6 separate regions of the Homo sapiens genome follow, and regions 1, 2, 3, 4 and 5 are each reported to be linked to region 6. Evidence: microRNA targets listed by miRTarBase, many of them from high-throughput screens and not tested one by one. Region 6 holds a microRNA gene; each other region holds the end of a gene's coding sequence.
The links. Region 6 holds the annotated microRNA hsa-miR-1205 (UCUGCAGGGUUUGCUUUGAG, at 1,653-1,672, opposite strand). A microRNA usually pairs through its seed, bases 2 to 8, with sites in the 3' UTR of a target mRNA and lowers its output. Matches are read on the target gene's strand: a 7mer-m8 pairs with bases 2 to 8, a 7mer-A1 pairs with bases 2 to 7 and ends in A, and an 8mer does both.

Region 1 (5,071 bases), not on the chromosome of region 6:
AGTTGTCACAGGCACTATGGCCCTTGCGAGTTGCTTTCTCAAACTTCCTTCAGTTTCCCTATCTGTCAGTTAAGTCGGTATTACCTGCTTCATAGGGTTATGGGAAGAATTAAACAATATGTGTAAAGCACTTACTAGCACACTGCCTAACACAATAAGTTAGAAATATAATTTGTGTAGAACTCTGACAACATACATTTAAACAGATGTTAGTAATTCTGGTATAAGGTTTGTCATAACCAAATGGAAATGTAGGAAACATTTATAACGTTCTTAAAAGATAGAAAATTCACCTCCATTTTCTTTGTACTTGAAGATGGCACCACTGGAATAAATACTTAAGACACTGATACTGCTTATAGTCCTTTCTTCACTGAGTAGTTACATAATACATCATTTTACTAGTGGCTTTTCTTTTAAAAAAGATACTAAAATTAATACTTCTGCTTTATTTAGATGGCTTCTTTACCTAAAAAGACTCTTCTGGCAGATAGAAGCATGGAATTGAAAAATAGCCTCAGACTGGATGGACTTGGATCAGGAAGGAGCATCCTAACAAACCGTTAGGAACAGCCCCGTGGATACTGAAGTTTTTTTTATGGTAGTTACAGGAAACTTCTGATACTCTTTTTATTATTTTCTTGTATAGAGTCAGACACTTGAAAAAAACTAATGTTTGAAGACAAAAATATTTTGGCAGTCACAATACCAGAACTGGATTGCATTTCCAGAATTCTGAGTTAAAGAAACAAAGTATTTGCTTTGTAAAAGGCCAAAATTCTATTTCCTACAAACTTTAAATGCTGTTTTTATAGATGTGATATGAGGCAACACAAGCACAGACAGTTGCATAGATTTTAATTTATACATATCAAGAAAAGTGCAATTTCATGCTGAATGAAGCGTAGGAACTTGACAAGCCCATAGGTAGCTATAGTTCTTTGTCAGTATAGGGAATTATGTTCATGTGAATTTCCTGATTCTCAGGTGACTAAAAAGCTAGCATTCTATGTATTAACCTTACAACAGACTCTGTAAGTTTGAGCTTTAAAAACCAAACTTTGACATAACCTTATTTCTTGTATTTGCCCCCTTTTTTTTATAAAAGGTGAATAAAAAGAAATAATTTAATATCACCATTGTATGGATTCCTAATCAAGATTTCACGTTCTCAGCCCCTGAGACTAGTTTTCTTTGCTCTCTGTAATTAGAGCCTTTGGAAGCAAAGTTGAAAGGAAGTATTTCCATTCTGTTACTGTTTTGTAGCACTTTGTCCATTTATTGATTTTTAAAGTAGATATTTAGATACCACCCCTGCCCTGCCCCAAAAAGAAAAATGTTTATTGTCCTGCTAATCTATATGCCTACACCTCAGAAGCTGACAGATGAGCTTCCTAAAACATGAGGATGAATAAATGTTAGAACTGTGATATCTTCTCATTTCCACAGAGATTTGGGTTTAAAACAAATGGCTAATATTTGTAAGCCTGAAAGCTGCCATCCTCTTTAACATCCTACCTACCTTTTAAAATATTTTCTGGAGGTTAAGTACAGTTAGGCACTAGAACATTTGTTAAGCCTCCCAAAGTAGTGTGCATGGAAGATTCTAGAGTGTCCAGCTCTTGCACTACAAATGTAATAATAACAGAATAAATACACTTACCCTGATGATATTGAGGGTACATGATTAGCCTAATGTGATGTCATATGAGGAAGTTTAGGAGTCCATTTTTCAGGTGGTTTGGTGATAGGAATAAAAATGTTACTCCCGTCGCTGATTTGGAAGAAAACCGATGAAGTACAAGTAAGGTTTCCCCACTCCTGTGTGTGGTCATGGGAAGCCATTAGAGGGAAGCTGCAGAACAGAATGGAACAGGACAGGCTGGGCTAGACTCGAGCACGCAGTGGCCCCTGTGCCACCACACTGTGGGTCAGGAACACGCGTCATGGTGTTCTTGTCGGAATGTGAACATACAGCACCCTCTAGCATTACGAATCTCTTAGGATTTTTAAGATTGTATTTGATAATACTTATATTTCACAGGGCACACTTTTGGCACACCTCAGAGCACACTGCTGCTATTTTGGGTCGTATCACTGTAAAATACATAATAAGTACTACTTAACTGTGACATGAAGAATTGGAATCCCAGAGGGCAACATTTGATTTGACTAAGATCAGGCATAAGATAGAATTTTTGTCATTTTTCCTTGCAGTTTTATTGACTTAGTTTATGAGCTTGGATAAAATAATTTTTTGATGAATCATGTCAATAAAAGGAAAAATAATGTAACTACCTCATAAGTCTGATAAAAGGAAGTTGCTAGTGTTTTATAGAATTTCTGAAGGTGGTTAAATCAAGTATGATTTCAAAATATCAACTAGTTCCACTTTTGTGATTGCAGGATGCTTCTTATACTAAAGTTCTCATAAATAATAAATCAGCTTATGCCAAAAATATATGAAGTTCCTTGGTTTTAAATTTTGAACTAAAATGGACTGAGCACATTAATTACTGTTTGAAAGTAGGTACCAAACACTGGGTTATGTGAGTGAGTAAGCAATCATATCGCCTGTCAAACACATCAAGTGTCGAACACGTCAAGGTGTGATACTGTCTTTGGAAGGCTCCTAAACAAATGTGAGCACAATTATTAACACCTTATTCTTCATGAACACAGACTGTTAAGCAGCACTAACCAATTTTATATTAAAAAGCTATTTATTTTGGTGAGTTATTCCAAGAGTTGTATACAGCTTTATTTTTTGGAATTGCAATATTAAAGTTGCACGTTGGATTTAACTCTCATGACTTTAGTAATACCTACAGAGGTGAGCTAATGGATGGTACATGGAGTAGGGACTGCAGAGACCCTAGTTTTGTCCCCACTCCATCTTCAAATAATTTTGGTCTCTTAGGTCTGTGATACAAAGGCATAAAACAATTCCTATCTTGAAGCCTTGAGAAAAGCTGTTACATATACGCAGATAGTAGCAAGACAGAAAATGCAAATATGTAAATGTCTTCTGATATCTTGAAATAAAGATAAATTTCAGTTAAACTTGTATAAGTTCAGATTTCTGTTAATGAGAAATTACAACCCTACAAGGTAAGGTCTTTACATTTTAGTTATTAAGCAGAATCAATGCTTAAAACTATAGTTAATACTTAGTGGAAAGAAAATTTAATCCATGTATCAGGATAATATATTAGACTGTCATGCATTAATTTTTTCCTGTATGCCAGGTTTTTTACATACGTGCCATATCAGTTGACCTTTTACAGTAGGAGTATAATTTACATTGTTTTTGACATTGGGGTTAGTATGGTTAAATGTCCTATAAACTTGAAGCTTGCTTCCATTTTTGTGGGTCTTAACCTCCACCTGGTGCTTGCTATTGGGTGTATTCAGGCATTGAGAAAAATATAAATCGTGAGGTAAATAATGGTCATGTTTAAACAGAGGCCTTATCATTTAGTGAAGCATAAAAACTGACACTATATAAATGCATCCGTCTAATGAAAAGACCCAGTACTGAGAAAAACATCCCTTTACTCAAGTGTCAGATGTCAGAGTGCTCTAACTGCTCAACTCATAAGTGAATACAACTAAGTAATTTCTGGTCCCCTAAAAATAACCATCCTTTTAATTAAAAGTAATTCTTCAGATAGGTTGGGCTACCAATAATTGTCCCTAAACAAAACCAAATGGCGCTTCCTTGTGCTTTTGCTGTGCCATAGGTTACTATGCAGCTAGCACATGTACCTCTTCCAGAAAAATGAGGTCATCCTGGGAGTGACCCAGAGATGCTCTCTAGGGATGTACCTCTTGATGTTCTTGTTAACTTTCCACTCTTCAGCTGGATTCCTCTTCCTGTCCCCTTTTCACCAGTCTCTACTCTTGAGAGAAGCTGAGAAGAGAAGGGCTCTTCTCATTTGTTATTTTCTCCTGCTTTTAGTATCATCTCACCCGTGGCAGAAGAAAGAGGTTCTTCCCAATTTAACACAAAATAAACTAGTTACTGTTTACAGATAATGCCCGCTAATGTTTACTGAAACTGAAACCCTATGATACATTCCATTCCCTTAAGTGTGCCACGCTGCAGGACTGACAAATGAAATCCATCCTACGAAAAACAGCCCAGGAACAAGCGAGGCCAAGGCCTGCTTTCCTCTCCGGCCCTTACAGTAGCGTGTGGCTCAGGCCACATCTTTTCCCTCTAGTTCTTTTGGCACAAGTTGTAACCTAATGCGACAAAGGTCCCTCATGAGATGGCTTAAAACTAGCAGTGTCGCTAGGCTCTTTAGGTGTTAGAACAGCCAACTCTACAAAAGTATTGGAGGGCACAGAAGGGTGATAGTCTTGGTTTTTATATTTGTCCTTCACTATATAAACATTGAAAAGGTATTAATCCTCATTAAGAAAGGATTATCGGCCAGGTCCTGTGGCTCACACATGTAATCCCAGCACTTTGGGAGGTCAAGGTGGGTGGATCACCTGAGATCAGGAGTTCGAGACCAGCCTGGCCAACATGGTGAAACCCTGTCTCTACTAAAAATACAAAAATTAGCCGGGCGTAGTATTGTGCACCTGTAGTCCCAGCTGCCTGGGAGGCTGAGACAGGAGAATCACTTGAACCTGGGAGGCGGAGGTTGCAGTGAGCTGAGATCACATCACTGCACTCCAGCCTGGGCAACAGAGCAAGACTCCGTCTCAAAAAAAAAAAAAAAAAAAAAGGACTATCATCCTTAGCAAACTAACACACGACCAGGAACAGAAAACCAAATACCAAGTATAGCATGTTCTCACAAGTGGGTGCTAAGTTAAAAGAACTTATGAACACAAAACAACACACACTGGGGTCTACTTGAGTGGGGAAGGTGGGAGGAACAGAAAAGATAAAACCTTCACATGTACCACTGAACCTAAAATAAAAGTTAAAAAGGACTAAGTCACAAGTGATTTGGAATGTGAGGTTATCCCTCACCCCCATGCTTTACTCTGTACTATTTTTCCTCCCTCAGTTTCTTTTTTTTTTTTTTTTCTGTATACTATGCTTTCTATTATA
Region 2 (5,058 bases), not on the chromosome of region 6:
GCTCGTCCACTCCCATGTCTGAGGCCTTCCACCCAACGGTCACAGGCGAAAGCCTGTACGGGGACTTCACCGAGGCCCTGGAGCACCTGCGGCACCGTGTCATCGCCACGCGCAGTCCCGAGGAGATCCGAGGTGGTGGCCTCCTCAAGTACTGCCACCTCCTGGTGCGGGGCTTCCGGCCCCGGCCCAGCACCGATGTGCGCGCCCTGCAGCGCTACATGTGCTCCCGCTTCTTCATCGACTTTCCAGACCTGGTGGAGCAGCGGCGCACCCTAGAGCGCTACCTGGAGGCCCACTTCGGTGGGGCAGATGCAGCCCGCCGTTACGCCTGCCTGGTGACACTGCACCGGGTGGTCAACGAGAGCACCGTGTGCCTCATGAACCACGAGCGCCGCCAGACGCTGGACCTCATTGCCGCACTGGCGCTGCAGGCACTGGCTGAGCAGGGCCCAGCTGCCACTGCCGCCCTGGCCTGGCGCCCTCCAGGCACTGACGGGGTTGTGCCAGCCACTGTCAATTACTACGTGACCCCCGTGCAACCTCTCCTGGCTCACGCCTATCCCACCTGGCTGCCTTGTAACTGACTCAGACCCTGGCCAGAAGGGAAGGGACTGGGCCTCACGGGGTGGGGTGGGGCCTCCAAGAGTGTGTGGAGGACATGACCAGAGGCGCAGAATGTGCCAGGAGGCCCAGCACTGCAGGGTTGGGCCTTTGATTGAACAGACCAGACTTTCCCGAGCACGAGGCCCCTGTGGGCTTAATGCCAGCCTGGGGCTCTCAGCAGGAGGACCCTTTGGTTATTGCATCACACTTTTGGACCAGCATGCCGGTGGGGTGCAGGCGCCATTTGTCTTGGAAGTCAATTTCCTTCAGGAGACAAAGCAAGTTTGGGGTGGTAGCCTTAATGCCCAGCACCTTGGATTGATTCCCATGGTCTAAGAGGGTCTTTTTGACTAAGGCCAGCCTGTGGTGATCCCAGCAGCTTTGGAGGGCCTGCAGCCCACACACTGACTGATACATGGTATGTTACAGGGACTTGTCACTTTGGATCAGGCTGGGCCACTACAGGGCCTGATGGGCCAACTTGGGTAATCACTGGGAGGAGGGAAACTGAGGCCCGAGGCAGATACCTGGGTTTGGGGAGGGCTGGGTTTAGCCCGGTTCTCTGAACTACATACCCCCAGCTGTGAAGCCTTCCTCTTGAGGGGTTGAGGTGGGCAGTATACAGGAGCCAAGCAGCCCAGGGTGGGTCGCAGCCCAGGCCCCTTCCAGGGTGCCACTCCTTTCCCCCTTGTGTTGCAAGGAGCCCTCCTGCCTGGGAGCTTGTTCTTTGGAAGGTGCTGAGCCTGAATTTGCCACAGTCAAGTCAACGTTCCCACCCCACTGGCTTGGTTACAGGGCTCTCACATGGGGTAGGGGAGCCATACTCCCACCCCCTTGCGTATTCCCCTGGGTTTGTTGATATTTTGCACTCTTAACACCTGCCAATAAAGACGGTCTACACTGAACCTTAGTGCCATGCTTCCTCTGGGGAAAGAAGGACCTTCCGTAGCAGTGGGGGTTGCAGCTGCCTCCCCCAGTTGGAGTCTGGCTTGTACTGTGGAAGGGAGCATTTGCGGGGGCGGGGTTTGAAGCCTGGGCTATGGCTGGGGGACTGCCCCTCCTTCTCCCAACCCCAGCCGCAGCCTGACCAGCTGTATATTAAGAGCTGCTGTCTACATGTGTGACCTGCACGTTGCCTTAGCAGGTCTAGGGCTCTTGTTAAGGAGTAAATATTTTTATGTTTTCTACCTGGAATCCAAATAGCTCTGGGCCTAGACTCAGACTCTGGTGCTCAGGGGTACTTGTTCCCAGCTCTGTCTACCCCGTCTCTTCCAAGGGAGCAGCTAGAGAACAGGCTGGGTGAATCTGGACTGGAGGCCCCTCCAGTAAAGGTGGCTGAGACTGGGGAACTTGTAGGGTTCCCCCTAAGCCTGAGCCCAGGTAGGGCCTCTATTTGGGAGAGGCTCCCTCAGTCCTCCAGCTCCTTCCCTTGCCCCGAGCACTGATGGGTGTGCTCTGGCTCGCTCTAATCAGATCCCCTGGATGGGGAGGGTCTCCCCTTCCCAAACCCACATGGGGCCATGCCAGGCTGTCTAGGAGTGTCAGCCGCAAGTTCCTAGCATGCTGCGCCCTCAGAGTATCAGCCAGTCAGTCATGGGCCTGGACGCTGCCTGCTGTTTGCCCAGACTCTTTGATCCAGGGATTGCAAAGCCCTTAACATATTCAGCCTCATTAGGGGCCTCTGAAGTGGTGACTTTGATGGTTCTGGCCAGGGTGGAAAAAACAATGCTGCAGAGGAGGCCCCAGGTCACCAGGGTGAGTCCAGCCACCTCACCTGCTCTGAGTCCCTTGTGCTGCTGGGCTCAAAATGGCTGGAAAGTGAACAGAAAGGCTTTCTTTGCTTGGTGACTAAAACCAGCTCCCACCCCCATCCCAGCTGTGACCACCCAACTATGGTCATGGGAAGGACTAAGTTTGTCTCACCTCCTGAGTTGGCTATTTCAGCCTTGGCATGAGAGGCTCACAGTGTAAACACAACAGACTTACCTTTTTGGGCTGGGGGGTGGAGTTCACCTGGATGTGCTTGTTTAGTTAAGGGCTGAAAAAGCGAGAAACCCATTTGGTACATGTGTGTATACACTGCATTCAGCCACCATGTGCCAGACACCGTTCTGGGTGCTGGGAATACATCAGCAAACAAAAGACAAAATCCCTGTCCTTGTGAAGACTACATTCTAACGGAGTAGATAGAAAATAAACCGAACCGTATGGTCTTAGATGATCAGTGATATGTAAAAATATAGCAGGGTAAGGGACTGGAAATGCTGGGTTTTGAAAATTGAAAAATAAGTCAGGAGCCTGGCGCAGTGGCTCATGCCTGTAATCCCAGCACTTTGGGAGGCTGAGGTGGGCAGATCACTTGAGGTCAGTAGTTCAAAATCAACCTGGCCAACATGGTGAAACCCCATCTCTACTAAAAATACAAAAATTAGCTGGGTATGGTGGCGTGTGCCTGTAATTCCAGCTGGTCGGGAGGCTGAGGCAGGAGAATCGCTTGAACCTGGGAGGCAGAGGTTGCAGTGAGCTGAGATCATACCACTGCACTCCAGCCTGGACAACAGAGCGAGACTCCATCTCAAAAAAAAAAAAAAAAAAAAGTCAGGTGCAACTCATTGAAAGGTGATATTTGATTGAACAAAGACATAAAGGTGGTGGGAGGTGGGCATGAAGATGTTTAGAGAAAGAGCATTCCAGGCAGAGAGCTTGCCTGTGAATGTGCATGCACTGTGGCACATGTACCTGAGGGTGTCTGGCAGGCCTCGTCCAGGTGCTGGTACTGCACACACGCATGGGCCTGAGGCAGTGGGGGCGTGTGAGACAGTTATTCACAGTAGCAGCCACCATTCCTGGTGGGCTTCACTCCAGCAGGCACTATGCTGAGGTCTTCCCAATCATGATCTCCCAAATCATCCTTGCAACAACTCCACAAGGGGAAAGAAAGCATTTCCATTTGGCAGACAGAAACTGAGACCAGAGAGGTCAAAGAGGTTTGTCTGGATCCAGAGCCATTGCTGTTAACCTCTGTTCCATCCTGCTCCTGCACTGTGATTTCACATGATTGTGACAGTTGTCTCCTGTACGTATGTGACAAGGCATAATTTGACATTACTGTGACATTTGTCATTTTATATGTGACTATGGCACAGTGTAGCAGTGTGGCAAGATGTACATTTTTTTTTTCTTTTTCTGAGACGGAGTCTCGCTCTGTCGCCCAGGCTGGAGTGCAGCGGTGCGATCTCAGCTCACTGTAACCTCTGCCTCCCGTGTTCAAGCGATTCTCCTGCCTCAGCCTCCTGAGTAGCTGGGATTACAGGCACCCACCACCATGCCCAGCTAATTTTTGTATTTTTAGTAGAGACGGGGTTTCACCATGTTGGTCAGGCTGGTCTCGAACTCTTGACCTCGTGATCTGCCCACCTCGGCCTCCCAAAGTGCTGGGATTACAGGCGTGAGCCACCACACCTGGCCAAGATGTATGTTTTCTTGATATACATGTGACAGTAATTATGGCTTGTGATGACTGTCCAGGGCTCATGATGGCAGCAGCACGCCTGTGGTTTTGTTTGGGAGTGGTGCAGCGTTTCTGAGTGTGAGAAAAACACCGACTCAGTGGCTGACATGGTTCCTCCTGTGGACAGTTCCTGCAGCTACCTAAGACACCAGGACAGGCAGGAATCAGGAACTGGGACTCAGAGCCAGCAATGCAAAGGCTGAGAGGGAAAAGCCCTGTCCTCTACCTTCCAACCTTACTGTGCTCTCCAAGCAACAGTCCACCCACCCCTTCAGACCCGAGGGTTGTGGGAGCTCCGGATGGGGAAGGAGCGTTGCTGTGGACTTTGAGGAACAAGGCATAGCCTCAGACAGTTACATGATATGCTGCCCTTCCGCTTTCACTCGCCACACTTCTGCTCTGTTCCCTGGGGGCTGGCATCTGTGGACTGCATCAATGGCTCCCTTGTTCCCCGGCTTCCTGTTGGGTTGCCAATGAGACATCCCAGCGTCTTAAGGAGACTTAAGGGAGGAGTAGATATTTATTCTCTTTGTTCCCTCTCTACCAGGTTGCCATGGTTGGCCACATCTCTCAACCAAAGGTCACGGTTCTTGTCAGGGGCCCCACTCCACACAGTGACCTCTCCTCACCCTCAGACTCAGGAGTTGCAAAGGCTTCTCACTGTTGCTGGCCCCAGATTGCTGAACCATCCCATTACATTTTTTTTTTTGGGTGGAGGGGGGAGAGCACTCACCCAGGCTGGCATGCAGTGACGCGATCTCAGCTCACTGCAACCTCCGCCTCCCAGGTTCAAGCCACTCTCATGCCTCAGCCTCCCAAGGAGCTTGGACTACAGGTGCACACAACAACGCCTGGCTAATTTTTGTATTTTTAATAGGATGGGGTTTCGCCATGTTGGCCACACTGGTCTCAAACTCCTGACCTCAGGTGATCTGCCTGCCTCG
Region 3 (5,071 bases), not on the chromosome of region 6:
AATCACATTTGCTGAAAATACTGTAGCATGAGTGTAGACAAACTTCCCCTGAAGCTGCTAGAAGTGTCTAGTTAGGAGAATCACTGGATGACTGCATGCAGAAGGCCTTTAGGGAACCTACAGTCCAATCTCCTTACCTTATGGTGTAAAGCAGGCCCAGAAAGCGGAAGTGACTTGTCCCAAGTCGCAGCAAAACAGGAACAGCCTGAGGCTTAGAACTCACTTCTGATTCCAGAGTGAGGCTCTTCCCTCCAGCTGATAAACATGGTCCGTGGCAGGCAAGGACCAGAGCGAACCTAAGCAGGTTAGGGGCGGGGTGGAGCCACCCAGGAGGCACTAACAGCGCAGCAGCTCATGGGAGAGCTTCCAAGAGGCCAGCTGGCAGCAACCCACCTTGGGTACTGCCGACCTCAACCTCAGGGGGTCACGGGAGCACCCTAGGTGGATGAATTAGCATACAAGTCTCTCTGGTCTGTGCCAAAGCTTTGGGGCCTTGCTAAATTTAGAAATTTGAGGCCAGGTGCAGTGGCTCACACCTGTAATCCCAGCACTTTGAGAGGCTGAGGTGAGCAGCTCACCTGAGGTCGAGAGTTGGAGACCAGCCTGACCAACATGGAGAAACCCCGTCTCTACTAAAAAATACAAAATTAGCCGGGTGTGGTGGCGCATGCCTGTAATCCCACCTACTCGGGAGGCTGAGGCAGGAGAATCACTTGAACCCAGGAGGCGGAGACTGCAGTGAGCCGAGATCACGCCATTGCACTCCAGCCTGGGTAACAAGAGCAAAACTCCGTCTCAAAAAAAAAGAAAGAAATTTGAAAGCAGCCAGCAACATCAAGGCACAGATGGAGCTTGAGCTACCCTCTTCAGGCTATTCAGAAAATTCTCCCAAGGGGAAGTTGGGAAGGAGAACTTCTATTTGGCCCCAGCCTAAACTCTCCTGGAAGCTCGATGGGGCCTCTGTCAGCTTTCCCCTCTGGACCTGCCCATTTGTCCCAGAGGTGCCCACTGAGGCTACCTCAATGCCTGTCAAACTAAAACTTAAACCTAAGAGTGTCTGCAGCATGGTCTCCAGCCAGCCTGATCAGAAGACTATGGAGGGGGCCAGGCACGTGGCTCACACCTGTAGTCCCTGTAATGCTAGCACTTTGGGAGGCTGAGGTGGGTGGATCACCTGAGGTCAGGAGTTCAAGACCAGCCTGGCCAACATGGTGAAACCCCATCTCTACTAAAAATACAAAAATTAGCTGGGCGTGGTGGTGGGCACCTGTAATCCCAGCTACTCGGGAGGCTGAGGCAGGAGGATCACTTGAACCTGGGAGGCAGAGGTTGCAGTGAGCCAAGATCCCACCACGGCACTCCAGCCTGGGTGACAGAGTGAAACTGTCTCAGAAAAAAAAAAAAGAAAAAAGAAGGAGGGGCATACTGACTCCTCACTGAAGAATGGGATAGACACCCTCTATTCTACCTCTCCCAGCAAGGCCATAAGTCTTTGCTCTGAAAGGAGCCAGACTTTAGAGCCGGCTACAGGTGGACATGGGGTGAAGACATCAGGTTGCGAGGGTACCCTCTCTCGTTCCCTAGGAGCCTGGCCCCTGCAAGGAGGGGCACCTTTAAACAATCAAGCATAGTGAGTGGGGCGGCAAGCAGAGCAGAGACACAGACGACAGCGGGGTGGAGCCCCACCAGTCCCTCTGAGTATAAGGCAGAGGGAGTCCCGCTGGGGTCCACATCCCTGTGTGTCTCGGGCTGATTTGGACACAAGGCTCACACATTCATCCTACCTGCCCCAGTGCTAGCTGGCCGAGGATGCCAGGCTGTACCCGACCTTAGGCTGTGCGGCTTGGAACCTGGACCGGGGCAGGAATTGACAGGTTCCCCCAAACAATGTCACTCCCAGGACCCTAAGACCTCAAGCAGCAGAAACCACAATTCTGGATGTTACGTGCAGCGCCAGCTCCTGTCTGCCCTGCCTCCTTATCCCTTTCTCCCAGGGCGACTTTGGACCAGGTCTCGAGGCCGGGAGACCGGCCCCAGCCCGCCCGACCGGGATGGGCCTGGCGCCCGGGGGAGGCCGCGTCGTGCTGAGACAGCTCCGAGCTGCCTCCCCGCAGCCGCGGGCCGCTACAATACGGATTCGGCGGCGAGAGGAAACAGTCTGGCCCTCCAGGGGACGCAGGGAAATCCAACCTTTGGGTCGGGGGCAATTAGGACTGGGAGTCGATACCGCGGGCAACGAATGATGAATGAATAAATGAAAGGATGAACAGAGTGGCGAGGCGGAGATGGGCCATGCGGGGCGTCCCGAGGAGGGTGCCCTTCCTTGCCCCGATGCTGCCGGGACCGTCCCTCATCCCCCAGGTCGCAGCAGACTCAGCCAAGACACCCGGTCCTAGTGCGAACACCTCGCGGGCCCCGGGAGACGCCTGGGCGCGCGGTGCAGCTCTGGCCCGGAGCCCGCATTCCGGCGGCCGGGAAGTGCCTGCCCCGTGGGCAGAACGCGCCGAGTTGCCGCGGCCCCAGGAGCCGTCCTGCCCCGCGCGGCAGCAGCCCCTCGCGGCGGCCTCCGGAACCCCCGAGACCGGCCCCCGGGCCGCAACCCCTTACCCGCCCTCCTCGGTGGCCTCGCTCCGGCTTAAAGCGGTCATCCCGGCGCCTGCACCCAGCGCCCCGACCGCGCGCCGGGACCCAGCGCCCGCCGGACCCCGCCCGCCCCGTCGAGAGCCCGCCCCGCCCGCCCGCCCATTGGCGGGTCGCGCGGGCCGGGCACAGCCCATTGGCCGTTCCTCCCCCTCATTCCCCAGCTTCCCCAGCTTCTCTCCTTCCCCACCTTCCCCAGGTGGGGCTCCAAGCTCTGAGCAGATCCTAGCGCTCGGTTCCCCGGACTGGGAGGTCCCGGAGGCCAGGGCCTGGCGCGGCACCTCCTGTCCCTCACGTCGAGGGTATTGTGTCCCCTCTGGACGCTTCTGTCGTCCTAGTCTTGCGGCTTGGGTCCCTCTGCAGGAACCAATTCCGGCCCCTCTCCAACCTAACCCTTCCCAACATAGAGCTCCGGATAAGTTTCAATTTTACCGTCAGTGGGGAACACCAAAGGGGATATTGAACACCATGGTCTGACAGCCAAGTCACCACCACGAACCCGGGAGCCAGGATGCTCCCACGCACTTTTGCCGGAGTTAACATTGCAGTTTCTCCAAGGAAATACACTTTTGGAGGAGTCTGCAAAGGGGCTGAAGGTGGACACAAATCAAAGGCAGGGAAGCAGAGGCACGTGCGCTCAGTGTGACAATGAGCTTTTGCCTGGCCTGCAGGCCCTTTCCTCTTCCATCCCCACCAGGACACTTGGTCCTTGGGAGTGTGGTCAGGGGAGAGGAAAAGCGCAGGCCAGATTTGGTCCCATTCCCAACTCTCTCCCCCAGCCCTTTGGCACTACAGCATCATGGTGGGAGGGCACCAGCAAACAGGAGGGGTCCCAAGGGGAGCCTAGGTCCACAACTGAGGACCTGGGAGCCAAACCCAGTCTCAGGCGCCCAGAGCTGACTCCTCCTACAGCCCCCATAAGGGATACGCTAATGCAGGAAGACCAAAGTGGAAGAACCATGGCCAAGGCCACTTTGCAATTTGGGTTTATCTACCAGAGTGGGAGGGAGGCCTTGTCCCTGCTCTTTCCCATCTTCGGTTCACGTAAGCCATTAAAGTCTCCCCGCAGCACTGAAGGGGGCAACCTGTAACCCTAAGATAGTAAGCTACTGCTTTCCCAGCGCCTCTGCACCAGGAGGTGGGCAGGATGGCAGGTGACACCACCATAGCTCCCACTGCGGGGCACGAGGCTGCAGCCATTCCCAGCCTGCTCAGAGGGCAGGGTTCAACCACCTCCCCCTCCCCAGCAGAAAAGAGAGGAAACAGGTGCTTCAGCTGTTGTTTATTGACATACAGGTAGGCTCTATAGCAACAGGCCTGGAGGTGCTGCAGTAGTGGGGGAAAATGGAAGGTGGAGGGTGGAGTGTTTGCTGCAGGACAGCTGAGTGGAGGGTGGGGACAGGTGCAAACTGGAGAGGCCTAGAGAGCTAGAGAAGCAAGTAAGGGCCAGGGCCAGAGTCGGCTTCAATGGAACAACAGCCCAGTGCCCTAAGGCCCCTAACTCTTGCTGGCTGTTTCTTGACCCCAAGCCAGGGTTGGGAGTCCTCTGGGCATCCATTTTTTCTAAAGGAACTGGACAGAGTACACACAGGAAAGGAAGCTGTCACCCTCTTGCCATCTGGCTCCAGGGGCCTCCAGTCCAGCATTCCTCCTTCTTCCCTTGATTGGGTGGGGCCACATGATGGGCAGCCAGGCTCTGGGCTGTCCCACTAGAGCAGGCTGCAAACACAGCCATGTTTCAGTGAGGCGTTGATCTTCTTCCCTGGTGTCCCAACCTACCAGTGCCACGTTACAGCCCAGAGTGAGTTCTACAAGCGTTGCTGGCCTAATGGATGGGCTGGGGGAAGGGGGTGGGACAGGGGCTGGAGGAGGGGCTCTGGGGTCCATCACGGCACAGGAACAACACGCATGGTGTTGGTGAAGCCGGAGCCAGGGCGCCATCCGGTCAGCACAATGACCACATCTCCCTTCTTGAAGAAGCCTCGGGCCTTGCCTGGAGGAAGAGAAGGGAGGTTGGTGAGTAAAAGCCAAGCCAGGCAGGTTTGCACCTGGGCAGCTGCCCCATAGCCTGAGTACTGAACTAGGCTGGCTGACCACTACTTCCTCACACCACAAGGTGGCACCAAACTCACAGCCCAGGCAAACAGGAGGAAGGCCCTGAAATGTCCTTATCACTCAGATGGCAGGGTTGGCAGGGACCTTTGGACATCATTCACTATCCTGGAGAGGGTGCAAAGCCTTGCCCAGGGTCAGAGCTAGCTGCTTCCTGTCATCTGATGATACCCTACCTTATACAGGGACAATGGCCACATCAGTACGTAATCTGTGTATGCCACCCCACAGCACAGGAGCTGTGGCCAATTTTATTTAAAAAAAAAACAAAAAACAAAAAAAACTCTCAGTAATGAGCAGATGCCAAAAAATGGACAAT
Region 4 (5,071 bases), not on the chromosome of region 6:
GAGACTTCCGCGTTCCCCCCCCACACACACCCCTGCCCCCCCAACGGCCCTGTCTGGCATTTTCCTGACGGTGCTTCGCAGTAAGCTCCGAGAGAACCAGCTGCCCAGGATCCAGGCGGGGGACCCTGTGGCGCGCTACTTTGGGATAAAGCGTGGGCAGGTGAGCCCTGTGGGGAGAAGGGGCCCTGGGGCTGCTCTGAGCTGACCACTCGGAGAAGGGGGCTTCTGTCCCTCCCCGACAGCCCCTCCCCCTTGATCCAGGGCCTGGAGGGGACCTCGAGACCACACCCCCAATATCCCCCTCTTAAAGCCAGGGCCACTGGGCCCAGAGAAGAGCGTGACCCAGGTTCCCAGGGAGCGGGTCCCACAGCCCAGGGTCAGCCATCTCGGACCCCTGCCGGCCATCCCCAGCCCGTGTGCTGCCCGCCTGCTGTCTGGTGACTGCAGTGAGACCCCTCAAGCATTCGCAGCCCCTGCTCTCTGTCTCTGCAGGTGGTGAAGATCATCCGGCCCAGTGAGACGGCTGGCAGGTACATCACCTACCGGCTGGTGCAGTAGCTACCGCCTGACAGGTGAGACGGCCGAGGGACAGGCACTGAGGTGGGGTCAGAGGCAGGGGTGTCGTCCCCTCCGTCGGTGTGCAGGGCTGTTCTTGCTTTGTCCGGCAGCAAGACCCTCCTAGCACCAGCCCAGCTGGGCCACCAGGCGCTCCCAGGACACCCCCAGACCCCCAGACCCCACCCGACCGTAGGCTGCAGCTCTTGGGGCTGTGCGCCTGGACGGGAGAGTCCTGGTACGCGGGGCGTGCGTCTCTCCGCCGCTGACCCACCTTAGAAGCAGGAGACGTTCACCTGCAGGGCAGTTGTGCGGCGGGACTTTCCAGAAGAGGGTTTAGAAACCTGCCCAGAGACCCCAGAGCTGAGAGAGGAGGCACAGCTTCAGGCCAACCCTTCCCTGAGTGGGCACCTTGGGAGGGACTGGCCGGAGTCTCAGGAGCGGGACAGCCTCTGCCCATGGCGAGAGCCTCCCAGCTTCCCCTGGACTCTGGTCATGGCGAGCTGCTGTCCTGCAGGCCGCCCCACTTCACACTCAGCCCAGGGGTGGGGCTTGGCCTGGTCTGACGCTGGCACGGTTCCTTTGAGGTCAGAGCTACTGCCCACGCCTGTGTGACCGCTGGGCACAAGGGAGCCGTCCGGCCTCTGCACTGCGGCCTGGGCCGCCTCCTGCCAGGCCTCCCGCACCCCGTCACGTTCGGTGGGCGTTGTGCTGTCCTGGGCATACTGGATCTGCCCCTGTCGTGTGACCACTCTCCCCCTTTCCTAGCCCCTAGAGGCGGACACACAGCGACCCCCATCCCTGCAGGACAAACGCCCCTGCCCTGCCAGAATCCGGCCCCCACAGCTCTCACGGCTGCTGCTCCTCTGGACTCCCCAAGGCAGGTGGCCTCCACCCACGTTCTCCCGTCCTGGGGTGAGGCTTCCTGTGGCCCAGCCCGCCCCATTCACCTGTGGATTTGTGCGAGATGCAGCCTCAGAAGGAACAAGGCCCCCAGAGGGAGGTCACCTGGGGGCAGCTGGTGCCGGGTCTTCACCCAGACCACGCTGGGTCCCCTCTGTTGGGGGTTTGGGGTCCGGGTCTCCCACCAGCCACTGCTTCCTCCTGGGCCCTCGGCCTTCCACCCCTCGTCTTCCCTCCCTCGGGGGCCCTGATGCGTGGCGGCCCCCGCCCGGCCTCGGCTCTTTACTCCATTCACAGCCATGCACGCGCTCAAGCCACCAGGGTGCGAGATGCCAGCTCTGGAGTTCTCGGTTGTTGTAGGAGGTTGGGTGTTTTCAAATGGTAAAGATGTTTTGAGCAAATAAATTTGCTTGATACAGAAACCAGGCCGACTAACAAGGTTTCCAGCAGGTGGCCTTGCCTCACCCCAAGCACACGAGGTCAGCCTGGCAGGTGTGCCCTCCTCGCGCTGGCTTCAGGGGTCAGTGTCTCCCCAGGCCCTCGCCCTGCCCTCCCACTTCGTGCTCCTGGGTAAGGCGTGAGCGTGTCTGTCTCTTCCCTTCCCGTGAGGGTGTGGAGTTGTTCTCTGGCTTGTGCAGCTGTGGTTTGCGGCCAGTTCCTCTTACAGACGTTTGGGATCTGGCTCTACTTCCCCGTTTGCTTACTGTCTGATTTCAGAAGGCCTCGCCTGCCCAAGTTTAACCTAGCCACGTGGTTCTCTCACAGTAGCTTTATTAAGATGTAATTCACCCTCGGGCGGTCGGTGGTCTGTAACGCGCCCACTGTTCTGTGCAGCAGGGTCCCCAGATCCCCAGGCCGCGGACTGTGTGTGTGATGGGGACAGTGCTTCCCCTTCTCTCCAAATGTACTTTTTTCAAAATTGTCTTGGCCAAAGCAAGCCAGACCCAAAGGGACAAACACTGATGTCACTCCTAGGAGGTCACTAGAGTCGTCAGAGACTGGAAGTAGGATGGGGGTTCCCGGGACTGGGGAGTTGGGTGGGGATGGGGGTTCCCAGGGCTGGGGAGGAGGGAGGGGACAGAGTGTGTCATGTGCACAGTTTTAGTTTGGGAAGATGAGAAAATTCTGGAGGTGGCCGGGCGCGGTGGCTCACGCCTGTAATCCCAGCACTTTGGGAGGCCGAGGTGGGCGGATCACCTGAGGTCGGGAGTTCGAGACCAGCCTGACCAACATGGCAAAATCCCATCACTGCAAAAAATACAAAAATTACCTGGGCGTGGTGGTGCATGCCTGTAATCCCAGCTACTTGGGAGCTAAGGCAGGAGAATCACTTGAACCCAGGAAGTGGAGGATCGCTTGAGCTCAGGAGTTAAAAGACCAGCCCGGGCAACACAGAGAAACCCCCCACCTCTACAAAAAACTTTAAGATTACCTGGGCACAGTGGCTCACACCTGTAATCCCAACACTTTGGGAGGCTGAGGCGGGAGGATCATTTGAGCCCAGGAGGCCGAGGCTGCAGTGAGCTACGATTGTGCTCCTGTACTCCAGCCTGGGCCACAGGGTCACACCCTGTCTCAAAAAAAAAAAAAAATGCAGTTCCACAGGCGCATGGGCCACGTTTCCAGTGCTTGGTGGCCATGTGGGGCTGACGTGCGAAACCTTAGAGCCGGGGGATACGTCCGTCATCGAGAACGTTTTCCTGGACTGCCCTGGGCTGCAGGTGGACGTGACGAGGTCATTCGATGCCTGACCGTCTGCACAGCCTGTGGTGAAGACCACCCGGGCTCCCACCTCGCGGGGCCCCGTGGCGGGGGGTTCCCTTCCTCACACATCCCTCCCCTAGGGGGAGGCCCAGGGCCACGCCACGGGGCTCTCTCTGTCCCCTCCCTGGCCCCTTCTTCTAAGCTTGCAGCTGCCACAGAAAATCTTCTAAGCTTGCAGCTGCCACAGAAAACACCCGATTAAAAACTTTTTATTTCAGCAAAATAAACGTGCCTGTGAAAGAACCACACGGTGGCTTCCGAGAGACCCCACTGTGTACCTGAGCCCCAGGTGGCCACACCTGGTGTTCTGGAAAAGGGAGTCCAGGGCCAGTATTCAGGCCCTGCTGTACTGCACCCTGGAAACTGCACCAAACCCCAGCTCCGCCCCCATCCACGGCTCCCAGAATGGTTTCTGGAGTCCCTGCAACAGACCTGTGAGGAGAGGGCAGGGCAGGGCCTGCCTCCTGCGTCCCCGTGATGACCTGGGGGATGCACTGGGCAGGGACAGCTTCCTCCATCCACACAGCCCTGTGGGCACCAACAAGGCCACTGTGACTTCACACGACAGCAGTGTTCCCCAGCTCAGCTGAGCCGGGGTGCAGGGGACAGCACAGGGCACAGTCCTGTGCCGCAAGGCCCTCGTGCTCCTGGAAGCCTCTGGGAGGAGGCGCCCGCTGGTGGGACGTCGAAGTCCAGGCGCTCTCGGCAGCGACCCCAGGACGGCGCACCTAAGCTATGCCGTGGTGCAGGGGACGTGCTGGAGGGACAGGAGCAGGCAAGAGAGAAGCCACCTGTGGTCCCAGCCCCACCCCAGCTCACACGAATTCCGGCTGCCTTTCCCTGCAGGAGCCCAGTGTCATCCGCCCGCCACGGAGCCTCATGGGGGGCAGTGGGGCCTGCAGCACGTTGTTGGACTGGTTGGTGTTGAATCCTGAGAGCTGCTGGGCCGGGCCGTCCTCGTCCCCGTCCCCGTCCTCCCGGGCTGTGGCCTCCAGCTGCTCCTCACTGCCGCTGTGGCTGCCAGAAGCCACCTCTAGGCTGGCCTCGCTCTGCTGCTGCTCCAGGAAGCTGAGGTGGCCCAGGGCACTGGCCTCCGATGAGGACAGCAGCTCGGAGGCCTCCTCTAGGTCCGAGTCCGAATCGTTGGACACAACTCGGGATTCTAAGAAAGGGAGACAGATGGCGGGGGGAGACAGACAGGAGAGATGGAGGAGAGACAAGGGGAGGGACAGACAGGAGAGATGGGGAGAGACAGGAGAGGGGGGAGAGAGATGGAGAGACAGGAGAGATGGGGAGAGACAGGAGAGATGGAGGAGAGACAAGGGGAGGGACAGACAGATGGAGAGACATGGCGGGGAGGAGGAGAGAGAGACAAGGGGAGAAACGGAAGGAGAGAGGTGTTGATAGGGTCTGGCTCTGTGTCCCCACCCAAACCTCATCTTGTAGCTCCCATAATTCCCACGTGTTGTGGGAGGGAGCTGGTGGAGGATGGTTGAATCCTGGAGGTGCGTCTTTCCTGGGCTGTTCTCATGATAGTACGTGGGTTTCACAAGATCTGATGGTCTAAAAACTGGAGTTTCCGGACACAAGCTCTCCCTTTGCCTGCCACCATCCATGCAAGATGTGACTTGCTCCTCTTTGCTTTCTGCCATGATTGTGAGGCCTCCCCAGCTACATGGAACTGTAACTCCATTAAACCTCTTTCTTTTGTAAATTGCCCAGTCTCAGGTATTTCTTTTTGAGACAGAGTCTCTCTCTCTTGCCCGGGCTGGAGTGCAGTGCCATGATCTTGGCTCAGTGCAACCTCTGCCTCCCCGGTTCAAGTGATTCTCCTGCTTCAGCCTCCTGA
Region 5 (5,071 bases), not on the chromosome of region 6:
GCTCCTTTCCTGGGCTGTGGGTGGCTGAGTCCTTGCTTTAAGGCCTGTTTTCCTGTGTCAGCCACACAAGGTGGCCCCAGCCCCTGGGCAGGTGGTAAGAAGCATAGGTCCTGGACCCACCCTGGAGTCCCGTGTGCAGGAACAGGCTGTGGACTCCTATGTGAAGTCCATTCCTGGGGCTCAGTGTCTCCTGCAGTCTGACGCTCAGTTATGTGGAGAAATGGGCAGTGGGACTGTCCAGGCTGAGAGCCTGGAGACCTCCAGCACCTGCGGGAAACCCCATCTCCATAGTGCACATTCTCGATACTCTCGTGGCCTCCGGGGGCATCAGGGGGCTAAGCTGAAGGACCCGATGGCCTCTGGTGGCCCTGGCCCAGCTGCTCTGTCTGCTCAGGAAACACCGCAGCATAAGGCCGTCCAGAGGAACGTAGGGCTTTGCCAGATGTCGAAGCAGACAGTGGCCTTCGTGTGGCAGCTGCTCCAGATGTGGAAAGGTCACAGGGGCCGCTGGCTGCGGGCTCATGCCAGGCAGGGGCAGGCCGCCTGAGAGGGTTTGCTGTGGGACCGCCCTGGGCTCTGAGCCCTGCCTGCGGTGGTGCAACCGGCGGTCTGTTCACGCCCGTCTCTGCTGTCGGCCCGCAGGCTTCATCATCTACTTTGGCTATGGCCTGTGGCACAGCGAGGAGGCGTCCCTGGATGCCGACCAAGCAAGGACTCCTGACGGCAACTTGGACCAGTGCAAGTGACGCACAGCCCCGCCCCCCGGAGGTGGCAGCAGCCCCGAGGGACGCCCCCAGAGGACCGGGAGGCACCCCACCCTCCCCACCAGTGCAACAGAAACCACCTGCGTCCACACCCTCACTGCAGCCAAAGGTGCAATTACTTGACCTGCAGCCCCAGCCCACCCTCGGCTCTGCAGCCGGTTCTCCGGGCCCTGGTCACCTCCAGACAGCTGCCTGGCCGGGGCCACTAGGCTGCGGCTGGCCACTGTGTCTCCTCACTTCTCTGAACAAAGCAGTTCCTCCCCTACCAGCTCAGCCCCGAGCTGCCGCAGCCTCAGGCAGAACGGAGGTCACCTTCTCTCCTTATCTTGGGAACCAGGCCTTCCTCCCGGGGACTGTTCTGGGATTGAAATTGTGCATACTCCAAACTTTCGCAGCCATCTTCCCGCTCAGCCCCAGACACCCAGCAATCAAGCCAGATGAGTACCACAAAACAGTGTGTCCCCAGCAGCTCCCCACCCCAGAGCCAAATGACAGTAGTGCACTTAAAAAGGAAAATCAGGCCTGTTGTCCTTCTCCGGTTGCATTCAGATGGGTCATTAGGGCCGGACCCTGCCTGCCCCTTGGCTTCTCAGGGCTTTGCTCTGACACCATGACAGCTGCCCGGGGCTGAGGGCAGCTGGCTCCACTCAAATGAGGAAGAAGGGATCACTCCCATTAGGGCCTGCTTTGCTTATGCATGTGTGTGCACATGCATGTAAACCAGGGACCTTCAGCTCACGGCCTCCAGGCCTGGGCCAGTTCTTGCTGCTCCTGCCGTCTCCCCCGACTGGCTGTGTCCTGAGTAACTGGAACATGAGACAGTATCTGCAGGACTGGCCCCATGGTGGCCGAGTCAGAAGTCTGTTTCCTGTGAGTCGCCACCGTTCACTCAGTCTTGCCCTCCCATGCTTTGGAGCCAGTCTGGTGGCTCCTGTAAGGTTCTCAAGGCTGGTGGCAGCTCAGTCTGGGGTCAGGACATGTCGGGGTCATGCGTTTCTGGCCCTGACATAAGCTGTCTGGCCTCTCTGTGACATGATGAAATTGAAATCAATCCACAGTCCATGAAATTGTGACACTCCACCAGATTAAGTTAGGGCATAACATTAACTTGGAAATGGCCATGTCATCACCCCTGCGGCTGTCCTATAGCTGAGATGCGTGGGTCGCAGGGGAGGTGATTTCTAGGCATATTGCTGTCCCTTTTGTGTATCTGTCATCCGGATGCTTCGGACCCCACGCCTCTGCAAGTGGGAGAGACCCGAGCATCCTCCCCACCCCCATAGCTCCAGTGCACGCCACCCCCGTCTTGCCTGGGTCGGGGCCTGCGGCCAGCACCATTTCACACACACTCCTTGTAGATGGGAGCCAGAGGAAACCTGAACGTGGGTGGAGCGTTCCACTGAGTCTACTTCAGGAGACAGAAGGCCCATGCTGATGGGGGAGGAGGAGGGATGTGGGCATTTTGGACACCAGGGGAAATGGAAATGCTGCTTTCAAAACTTAGTTTCCTTTCCATTTCTTCCTAGTCTGGCCTTTGACACAAATCTGGTAGAAAGAAGCCTGATAAATTGAGGGCACTTGTACCCTCCCTGTGCCCCCAGAAGGTTCTTGGAGAGAAGTGCAAGAATTTGTGAACACGGCGGTGGAGGGCGGGTGGATGGCCATGGGCTGAGCCTCCGTATCAGGCCTGCTCACCTTGCTGGGAGCTTTATTCTGATCTCATTTTGAATGTTCCAGAGGGAGCATCATAAGAGCCCAGAGCTCCGATTTCCAAAGAGTGATATTGACATTTATGGAGATTGGTGTTGTAACATATTTTGATAAATACTAACTTATTTTGTTGGGGTTTTGGTTGTCTCTTGTCTTAGGACCTGGTAGTTATTTGCTTGATTTTTTTTTCCGTTATTTTCTACATAGGCAAAGAGAATTCGAGGGATAGACAGTCTCCAAGAAAAGTGAAGTGGTGGGAGAGAATTGCTTTTTTCTTTTTTTTCTTTTCTCTAGTTTTTCTTTCTGGCTGAGATTTCCGTGCAAGACAGCACCCAATAGACTATTTAGAGTTGACATTTGACATTTTAATGGGCGCCATGGCTCATTTTGTAGATTGAGAAGGTGCGTCTCCCCTGCTCCAAGTCTCATCATGACAGCGTGCTGACAGCTGGGAGTCTGTGGCCTTCCTCACGCAGAGGCCTTAAAGCTGGACACAGAAGCACGCCTAGGCTGGGCAGGGATGGGACCCATGCCCCCTCCTTAGAGGACGGGCTTCCTGGTTAGGAAAGGACACGTGGGGGTGCCTTGCATAATAGTTCACTGGTCACCGTGCTTTTATGAGTAGTGTTTTTGTGCACTTGCCAGGGGTTTTCTCTCTGTGTGAGAGGGGAGTGATTTAAGCAATGGTGTCTGGAGTAAGCCTTACAATTTTAATAGACTTTTTCTTATCATATCCCTCATTTCTTTCCCTGAAATAAAAATACACACAAGCAAAAAAAAAATGATAGTTTCACATCTCTTAGTTCCCTTGCCCAAACAAGAATATTCTTAGTTCCACTGGCCAGGATTTTCCTACATAGTCAGAACTTACACATTACTAGAGGCACACCCACCAAGGAGTATTGTGTCTACTTTTATCTGTGCACCAGCCACAAATACCCACATTGGAAAGACCCATTTGTGATGGGTAAACATCCCTTCCTGTCTCCCACAACCCCTGTGACTGCCCTGCATGTGTTCATGACCTCCGAAGGCCCAAATTCATGAAGCAGCAAACCCAGCAGATCTCCACCCCCCTGCCTCAGGACCTCTGCTGAAGAGGGGGATGAAGTGGGTCTCCAGGGAGGCAGTGGGGGCCTTGTTGGCAGCTGGCTCGGGAGCCGGCTTACAGGAGGGCAGCTCTGCAGTTGGGAGGGGCACCGTCCGGAGGAGACCAGGCCTCTACACACCCCCCACTCTACTTATCATCCCTGCTCACACACCCTTGTCCAAGGCTTTATGCATCGGATTTATTTTTCCAAATCAAGAGGACAGTGATAGATGCATTTTCCCCAGGCTGTCTCAGAAAGGTCGCTAAATGTATACTGTTGTCAGAATTGCTGAGATCTCCCCCCACTTTTGGTTTTTGCAGCAGTAAAAACTCTTTCCACTGTGACTTATTTTCTCTCTCAGGCAGCCAGCCACCTGGTCCCTTGTGCTGACTCTAGCACAGTGGCCAGGATCCAATACGAGTCCAGGGGTGACCGCAGGATGGTGGGGGCAGCGGGCTTCTCCACCTACCCCAGCCACCAAGGCCCTGACGCACTGCCTCCTGCACCTTCAGCACATCCCTGTGCACAGCTGGAAGGGTGCATGGCCCGCTCACCTTTGTTCAGATGGGTGGAAACGCTGATGATACCAGCTCCTCCCTGCCGTGCCCCTGCCACGGAGCAGGCATTGTGAACTGGCTGGTGTTTGCAGTCCCACGTGGCATGGCCTCCAGCCCAACCCACAGTGGAGACTGGAGACAGGGCAATGAGTCTGGTGGGGGGCACGTGGACATGCCCCATAGGGGCCCCACCCAGACTTAACAGGCAAGGTCCTGGGCATTGCGCGACGCAGGACTCAATGCTAAAGCAAGCCTGCCTGGCTCTGTGCCAGGGCCCCTCTTCTGATTCACACATCCCATTTTTACACAGACCCTTCCTTCTTAATAAAGGCTGACAGTTCTGTTGGCAGCCAAGAACCCACACCATGAAGACAGGGAGTGAGGGGCCTTTGTGCCCAACTCCAGCACAGCTGCGTTCTGGGGTGTGTGAGAGGCATGTTCGTGTCTGTGCGCTGGTGGTCTCGTGAGACAGTTCCGAGGACGGGGAAATTGCAGGGTGGTGGGGGCGTGAGGCTTATATGTGGAACTGATGCAGAGTTCGCCTGCAGACGGATCTGGATATACACTATGTATAATTGTTACGTGTAATTTAAAATATATCTGTTTGCCATCGTCATGAGAAGATTATATGTAAGGCTCTGAAGGGAGAGGGAGATGTACATTCTGCCAGGCTCCTGGGGACCTTATCCGAGTCATGAAATTGATTACTGTTGATCCAGTGGTGCAAGAAGCTACACTCCATGTGTCATCACGCTTATGACTCCTAATGTATTTTTAAGGCAAAAAATGTCAGCCGACTCCATCTTCACCCCTCGATTCCTCGAGTCCAGCCTTTCTGTGCCAGTGCTTCACTGAGCCACAACGCTCTCGCCATCGGGACCCGGCTGGGCCTGGAGTCTCGGGGCACAGTTGCCATGGAGCCCTCCTGGGTCATTCTACAAATGTGCTG
Region 6 (5,071 bases):
GGCCCACTCCCAGTGAGCCAGCCCTGGGCTCAGAATTCTACATTCATGGCCGGGAGCGGTGGCTCACGCCTGTAATCCCAGCACTTTGGGAGGCCAAGGCAGGTGGATCACGAGATCAAGAGATTGAGACCATCCTGGCCAACATGGTGAAACCCCGTCTGTACTGAAAATATAAAAATTAGCTGGGAGTGCCCCTGCAGGCCCAGCTACTTGGGAGGCTGAGGCAGGAGAATCGCTTGAACCCCAGAGGCGGAGGTTGCAGTGAGGCGAGATCGCGCCACTGCACTCCAGCCTAGGCGACAGAGCGAGACTCCGTCTCAAAAAAAAAAATTCTACATTCATTATCTCCTTCGTCCTCACAACAAACCTGGAGAATGCAGAGGTGCTACATTTCTACCCACTTTATAGACCAAAATGTGAAGTTACAGGTTAGTCATTGTTGAAGCCAGAAACCAGGAGTCAGACTCGGGCAGGGGGGGCCTCTGGAGCTCCTGAAGGCCATCCCCACTCCCTAAACAAGGTTGAGAAGGTGTGGTTTAAAGAGGAACACCATGGAAGGAAACCAGTGCTTTCTTCACTTTTTAGTCTGGCAAAACAATCCTTCAAGTTGTTCCGTGGTTTGGAGAACAGTAATGTGTATGGGTAACAGGTGCTCAGTGGTACGGACAAGGTTATACATTTCCAGCCTCAGAGTCTTCAAGGCAGCTTGCTGGTAGGAGAACCTGGATTTGCTCATGCAGTCTTGGGCACAGCCCTCACTTACCTTAGATGCTCACCCAGCTTGGGGTGGGGCACAGCCCCTCCAGACTCCAGCCCAAACAATCCCCATCACCTCCGCATTTCCTAGTACAACACACAGCACCGAATCTATTCAGTGGCCTAAGCTGGACACAGAAAAGAACATTTTACCCCTTCCTTCCTGTAACCCCAGAGGCTCTTCGTGCACCGCGTTCAGGGACTTCTCTCTTGGGTCTCCAGTGCATCCCTGTCTCCTCCAGCTCAGGCCCCGTCACCACTGGCCACCAGCTTGGACCTCCCTCTGATCTTGTCTTCCTATGGCAGAGGCCATGCTTTCTGAAATGCTAATCTCTCCCTCTCTCACCTCTGCTTAAAATCTGCATCATGAGACCATCGCCCTCAGCACAAAGTCAAAATGGTCTTTCTAGGATCTGGCCTCTGCTTACCTTTCCTGTCTCCCTCCTGCCTCTTCTCTGGGCAAACTCCTTCCTTCCCCTGACCACCCTAAGTCCACACCCTGGGCCCTTCTGTGTGCCTATGGCACCCTGTGTCCCCAGGCAGGCACCTTGGCTGTGATTATCTGATTTCTCATCTAAATTCCTCCCCTATTCGTGCCCGCCCGCCCCCCCCACCCCCAAACACACACACAAGAGAACAAAAAATCTCTAAGGAAAAAGAGCACTTCCAACTCATTCCTGTACTTCCAGAATGCATGCAGCACCATGCCTGGCCTGCAGTATGTGCTCAATTAAACTATTGCATAATGAGAAATACCCTATGTTTTGAAGTGTCCAGGAAATTGAAACAATAATACTCTCTCCCCACAAAAAACAGAAAACAGTTATCTATGCCTCAGTTTTTGTGTCTGAAAAATGGAGACAGACTCCAGAACAGGGTTGACAGGAAGGAAGTACCTCAAAGCAAACCCTGCAGAGGCCTTCAGTGATAAGTGTTCACTTTCCCTATCTTCAGCTTGCTGATTTCCCTATCGTGGTGCATCCATCCAGAAGGCCACAAAGATCCTATCTCCCACCAACTGAACTTCAAAAGCATCTTTATCTGCAGAACCCACCTCAAGGAAGGTCGATTCCTAACTTCTCTCGGTGATCCTTTTATTCTGGGCTAGCTAGGCACACCCGCCCAGCCTTATCTGTAATGTCCCCAAGCTGTTGTCTTTCCAGGAAGGGTGTCTCCTATCTACAGGCCTCCAGGAGGCAAGACCAGGGAGGCAAATGGAGGAGAGCCACTCTGTGACCTGAGATCTGGCTTCTGCCACCCTCAAGCTGTGTGACCTGGGACAAATCAACCCATTCATCAGAGGCTCAGCTTCCCCATGTACCCCTCTGTTCAAAAAAGGGAGTAGACTCACGGACCCTCCAACTTGGAAACTGCAGTAACAGGCTGTACTGGACATGTTGAATGAACACCACAATGGCTGCCTAAGCCGATCCCTTCTAGCAAAAGAGGGAGAGTGAAGCAGAAAGAAATCAGGGAAATTTCCAGAAATCATGTCATCCTGGGTTGCCTGAAGATGACAAAACTACGACGTACAGGAGACCCCTTCCAGGAATCACATACTGCATCCGGGGAAGGCCAGAAGTAAGTGCAGACATACATGAAAAGGCAGGCATTAGGGATGGTTAAGTGGATGCCAATTCCCTGCTTCCAGAAATGAACTCAGCCTAATGAAAATTCTGCAGGCGCCTCACCTGTATATTGCACTTGGGGCTAGGAGTGCAAGCCACCCAGGGGCTCCTGACGGGCTGCTCACCTAGGTCCCAACCCCCTTCTGCCATTTCCTAACCGGTTTGTTCTCAGCCTCTTTGAACTTCAGATGCTGAGCAGCTTAACAATGTCTGAACAGCCTAAATCAGCCTCTGGCCCATTAAAGATGTCTGTTTCCTGCCTCCTTTCCTTAAAGAGTTTCAATAAGAAGAGCTCCTTTAAGGGTAGGCACTGGGTCTTTTTTTTTTTTTTTTTTTTTTTTCCTGAGACAGAGTCTCGCGCTGTTGCCAGGCTGGAGTAGAGTGGCGCCATCTCGGCTAACTGCAACCTCTGCCTCCCGGGTTCAAGCGATTCTCTTGCCTTAGCCTACCGAGTAGCTGGGACTATAGGCACGTGCCACCACGTGCAGCTAATTTTTGTATTTTTAGTAGAGATGGGTTTTCACCATGTTGGCCAGGCTGATCTCGATCTCTTGACCTCGTAATCCGCCCGCCTTGGCCTCCCAAAGTGTTGGGATTACAGGCGTGAGCCACCGCGCCCAGCCTGGGTCTTTTAACTTTTATATCCCCAGAGTGTAGAATATTTAGAATACCAGAATTCCTTTATAAATGCCCACTAAATGCGTGGATAAGATAAAAACATAAGACAGGAAGCAATCAGGGGACTGATAGTCATCAGTTCGCTTGGTAAAATGCACTCACGTGGCTAGCACTCAGAAGACATCCCAAATCTCCCTTCTGCTCTTTCTCCCTTAGAGCCACACAGAAGCTCTGCAGGCCTGAGCCCACCTACCCCACCCCACCCCACCCCGCTAAGGGGCAGCACAGAACAGCAGCAAACCATGAGGACCCAGGCCACCTGCTGGGTTCCCATCTTGGTGCTGTGACCGTGACAACTGACTGAAACCCTTAAGACTCCCCTTCGATAGTATCCACTTCACAGTGAGCTAGGAGGACTCTGTGAGTTCAAATATGACATGTGCTTAGAACCAGGCCTGGCACATGGCTCCCGTGGCTGTCAGCTATGGGATCATTCGTGCTACTATTGTTATTCCGTACAACCAGATGTTGGAAAAATTCTGGAGTCACCGAGCCACAGAAGGCACACATCCAGATCCCAGATTGCAGCTGTCAAGTCACACTTTGAGCCTTGGACTTGGAATCCTAAATCACTGGGTCAAATCCTGGCTCTCATCTACCTCTGGCGCCTGACTTTCTCCTCTCTGAGCCTCAGTTTCCTCCCCTGGAAAGCAGACCTTTCAACCTGCCCTGTCTTCCCCAAAAAGGGGATCAAATAAAACAGAAAGCATGGGCCGGGCATGGTGGCTCATGCCTGTAATCCCAGCACTTTGGGAGGCCAAAGCAGGCGGATGCCTGAGCTCAGGAGTTCGAGACCAGCCTGGGCAACACGGTGAAACCCCAGCTCCAATAAAATACAAAAAATTAACTGGGCATGGCGGTGTGCACCTGTAGTCTCACCTACTCGGGGGGCTGAGGCAGGACAATCACTTGAACCCAGGAGGCGGAGGTTGCAGTGAGTGGATATCGCGCCACTGCACTCCTGCCTGGGCGACACAGCCAGACTCTGTCTCAAAAAAAAAGAAAGAAAAGAAAAGAAAAACAAAAAAAGAAGAGAAAAAAACAGAAAGTATGAAGTTTTCTAAGGTTGGTATAGTAGGTGCTGAATAAATATATTCATTTAAATGAATAGTTTACAACCTCCTCCACACTTAGATCAGCCAACCAACCACTCTGTCCATCCTGTTTGATGCCACGCCCGTGTTCCCTTCACCTCACCACCTGTCATTCCCATGTGCCTCTCTGCTTTCTGTTAGGGGCACTCAGCTTTGATCACCCAGCAGGGCTTCTGGTGCCAGGGAATTAGAAACCATGGCCAAGATCTGAGAACATGTCTGTCCCCATATCACACAGGCTGCCCGCTGTTTCTCGGCCTTGCCCTGCAGAACGAGGCACGGCAGGGAAGCTGGAAAGTGCACCCACACCTCCCCGCCATGCGCATGCCTGTGTGCACCTTGTGTGTGTGTGCATGTTCAGGGGTTGCAGTGCTATCAGCTGCGCAGCACAAGCTGCAAAGCCTCCCAAGGCAAAGAGAAACACTCGCTCCCAGGACCGGGAAGGCCTGAAGAGGAACGAGCTGTTTGGCCCTAGGCAAGTGACTCCTCCTGTATCTCAGTCTGTTCACCTATAAAATGAAGACCATGTCCCCCATGGCCTGCAGAAGACTTTTTTTTCTTTTCTTTTCTTTTTTTTTTTTTTTTTTTTGAGACGGAGTCTCGCTCTGTCACCAGGCTGGAGTGCAGTGGCGCAATCTCGGCTCACTGCAACCTCCACCTCCTGGGTTCAAGTGATTCTCCTGCCTCAGCCTCCTGAGTAGCTGCACGGTACAGGCTTGCACCACCACACTCAGCTAATTTTTGTGTTTTTAATAGAGATGGGGTTTCACCATGTTGGCCAGGATGGTCTTGATCTCTTGACCTCGTGATCTGCCCACCTCGGTCTCGCATAGTGCTGGAATTACAGGCATGAGCCACCGTGTCCAGCCAGAAGACATGTTTAAAACCACCCCTGAAACTTGAGTCTGTAGAGGG

Region 1: miRTarBase lists MRS2 as a target of hsa-miR-1205. Seed matches in the 3' UTR shown: 7mer-A1 at 1,856-1,862 and 7mer-A1 at 2,865-2,871.
Region 2: miRTarBase lists TENT5B as a target of hsa-miR-1205. Seed matches in the 3' UTR shown: 7mer-m8 at 993-999.
Region 3: the mRNA of PKM is a reported target of hsa-miR-1205. Seed matches in the 3' UTR shown: 7mer-m8 at 4,011-4,017.
Region 4: miRTarBase lists POLR2E as a target of hsa-miR-1205. Seed matches in the 3' UTR shown: 7mer-m8 at 1,356-1,362.
Region 5: miRTarBase lists SLC7A1 as a target of hsa-miR-1205. Seed matches in the 3' UTR shown: 7mer-m8 at 888-894 and 8mer at 4,664-4,671.

Annotation. Positions count from the first base shown.
Region 1 is chr6:24,423,128-24,428,198 of GRCh38, forward strand. It overlaps MRS2 (magnesium transporter MRS2), which reads left to right. Exons shown (of 11, transcript NM_020662.4): 11 at 457-3,063. The coding sequence ends at 567. It overlaps GPLD1 (glycosylphosphatidylinositol specific phospholipase D1), which reads right to left. Exons shown (of 25, transcript NM_001503.4): 25 at 2,705-5,071. Among named protein-coding and RNA genes, the nearest start is that of MRS2, 23 kb to the left of the region's middle.
Region 2 is chr1:27,001,470-27,006,527 of GRCh38, reverse strand. It overlaps TENT5B (terminal nucleotidyltransferase 5B), which reads left to right. Exons shown (of 2, transcript NM_052943.4): 2 at 1-1,508. The coding sequence ends at 584. Among named protein-coding and RNA genes, the nearest start is that of TENT5B, 8.9 kb to the left of the region's middle. RefSeq lists enhancers at 1-124, 125-768, 2,057-2,701, 4,252-4,411, 4,129-4,732.
Region 3 is chr15:72,195,124-72,200,194 of GRCh38, forward strand. PKM (pyruvate kinase M1/2) reads right to left here. Exons shown (of 11, transcript NM_002654.6): 11 at 3,906-4,633. The coding sequence ends at 4,527. GRAMD2A (GRAM domain containing 2A) reads right to left here and starts at 2,664. Exons shown (of 12, transcript NM_001012642.3): 1 at 2,608-2,664. The coding sequence starts at 2,648. RefSeq lists an enhancer at 2,102-2,281 and a silencer at 2,392-2,811.
Region 4 is chr19:1,084,973-1,090,043 of GRCh38, reverse strand. POLR2E (RNA polymerase II, I and III subunit E) reads left to right here. Exons shown (of 8, transcript NM_002695.5): 6 at 82-160; 7 at 493-572; 8 at 1,324-3,470. The coding sequence ends at 558. It overlaps ARHGAP45 (Rho GTPase activating protein 45), which reads right to left. Exons shown (of 23, transcript NM_012292.5): 23 at 3,416-4,384. The coding sequence ends at 4,038. Among named protein-coding and RNA genes, the nearest start is that of POLR2E, 7.9 kb to the left of the region's middle. RefSeq lists enhancers at 989-1,088, 3,655-4,154.
Region 5 is chr13:29,510,155-29,515,225 of GRCh38, reverse strand. It overlaps SLC7A1 (solute carrier family 7 member 1), which reads left to right. Exons shown (of 13, transcript NM_003045.5): 13 at 643-5,071. The coding sequence ends at 746. Among named protein-coding and RNA genes, the nearest start is that of MTUS2-AS1, 25 kb to the right of the region's middle.
Region 6 is chr8:127,957,241-127,962,311 of GRCh38, reverse strand. It overlaps MIR1205 (microRNA 1205), which reads right to left and starts at 1,679; the gene lies at 1,617-1,679. All of the region lies in intron 3 of PVT1 (Pvt1 oncogene), which reads right to left. RefSeq lists a cis regulatory region at 1,810-1,921 and enhancers at 1,328-2,303, 4,152-4,963.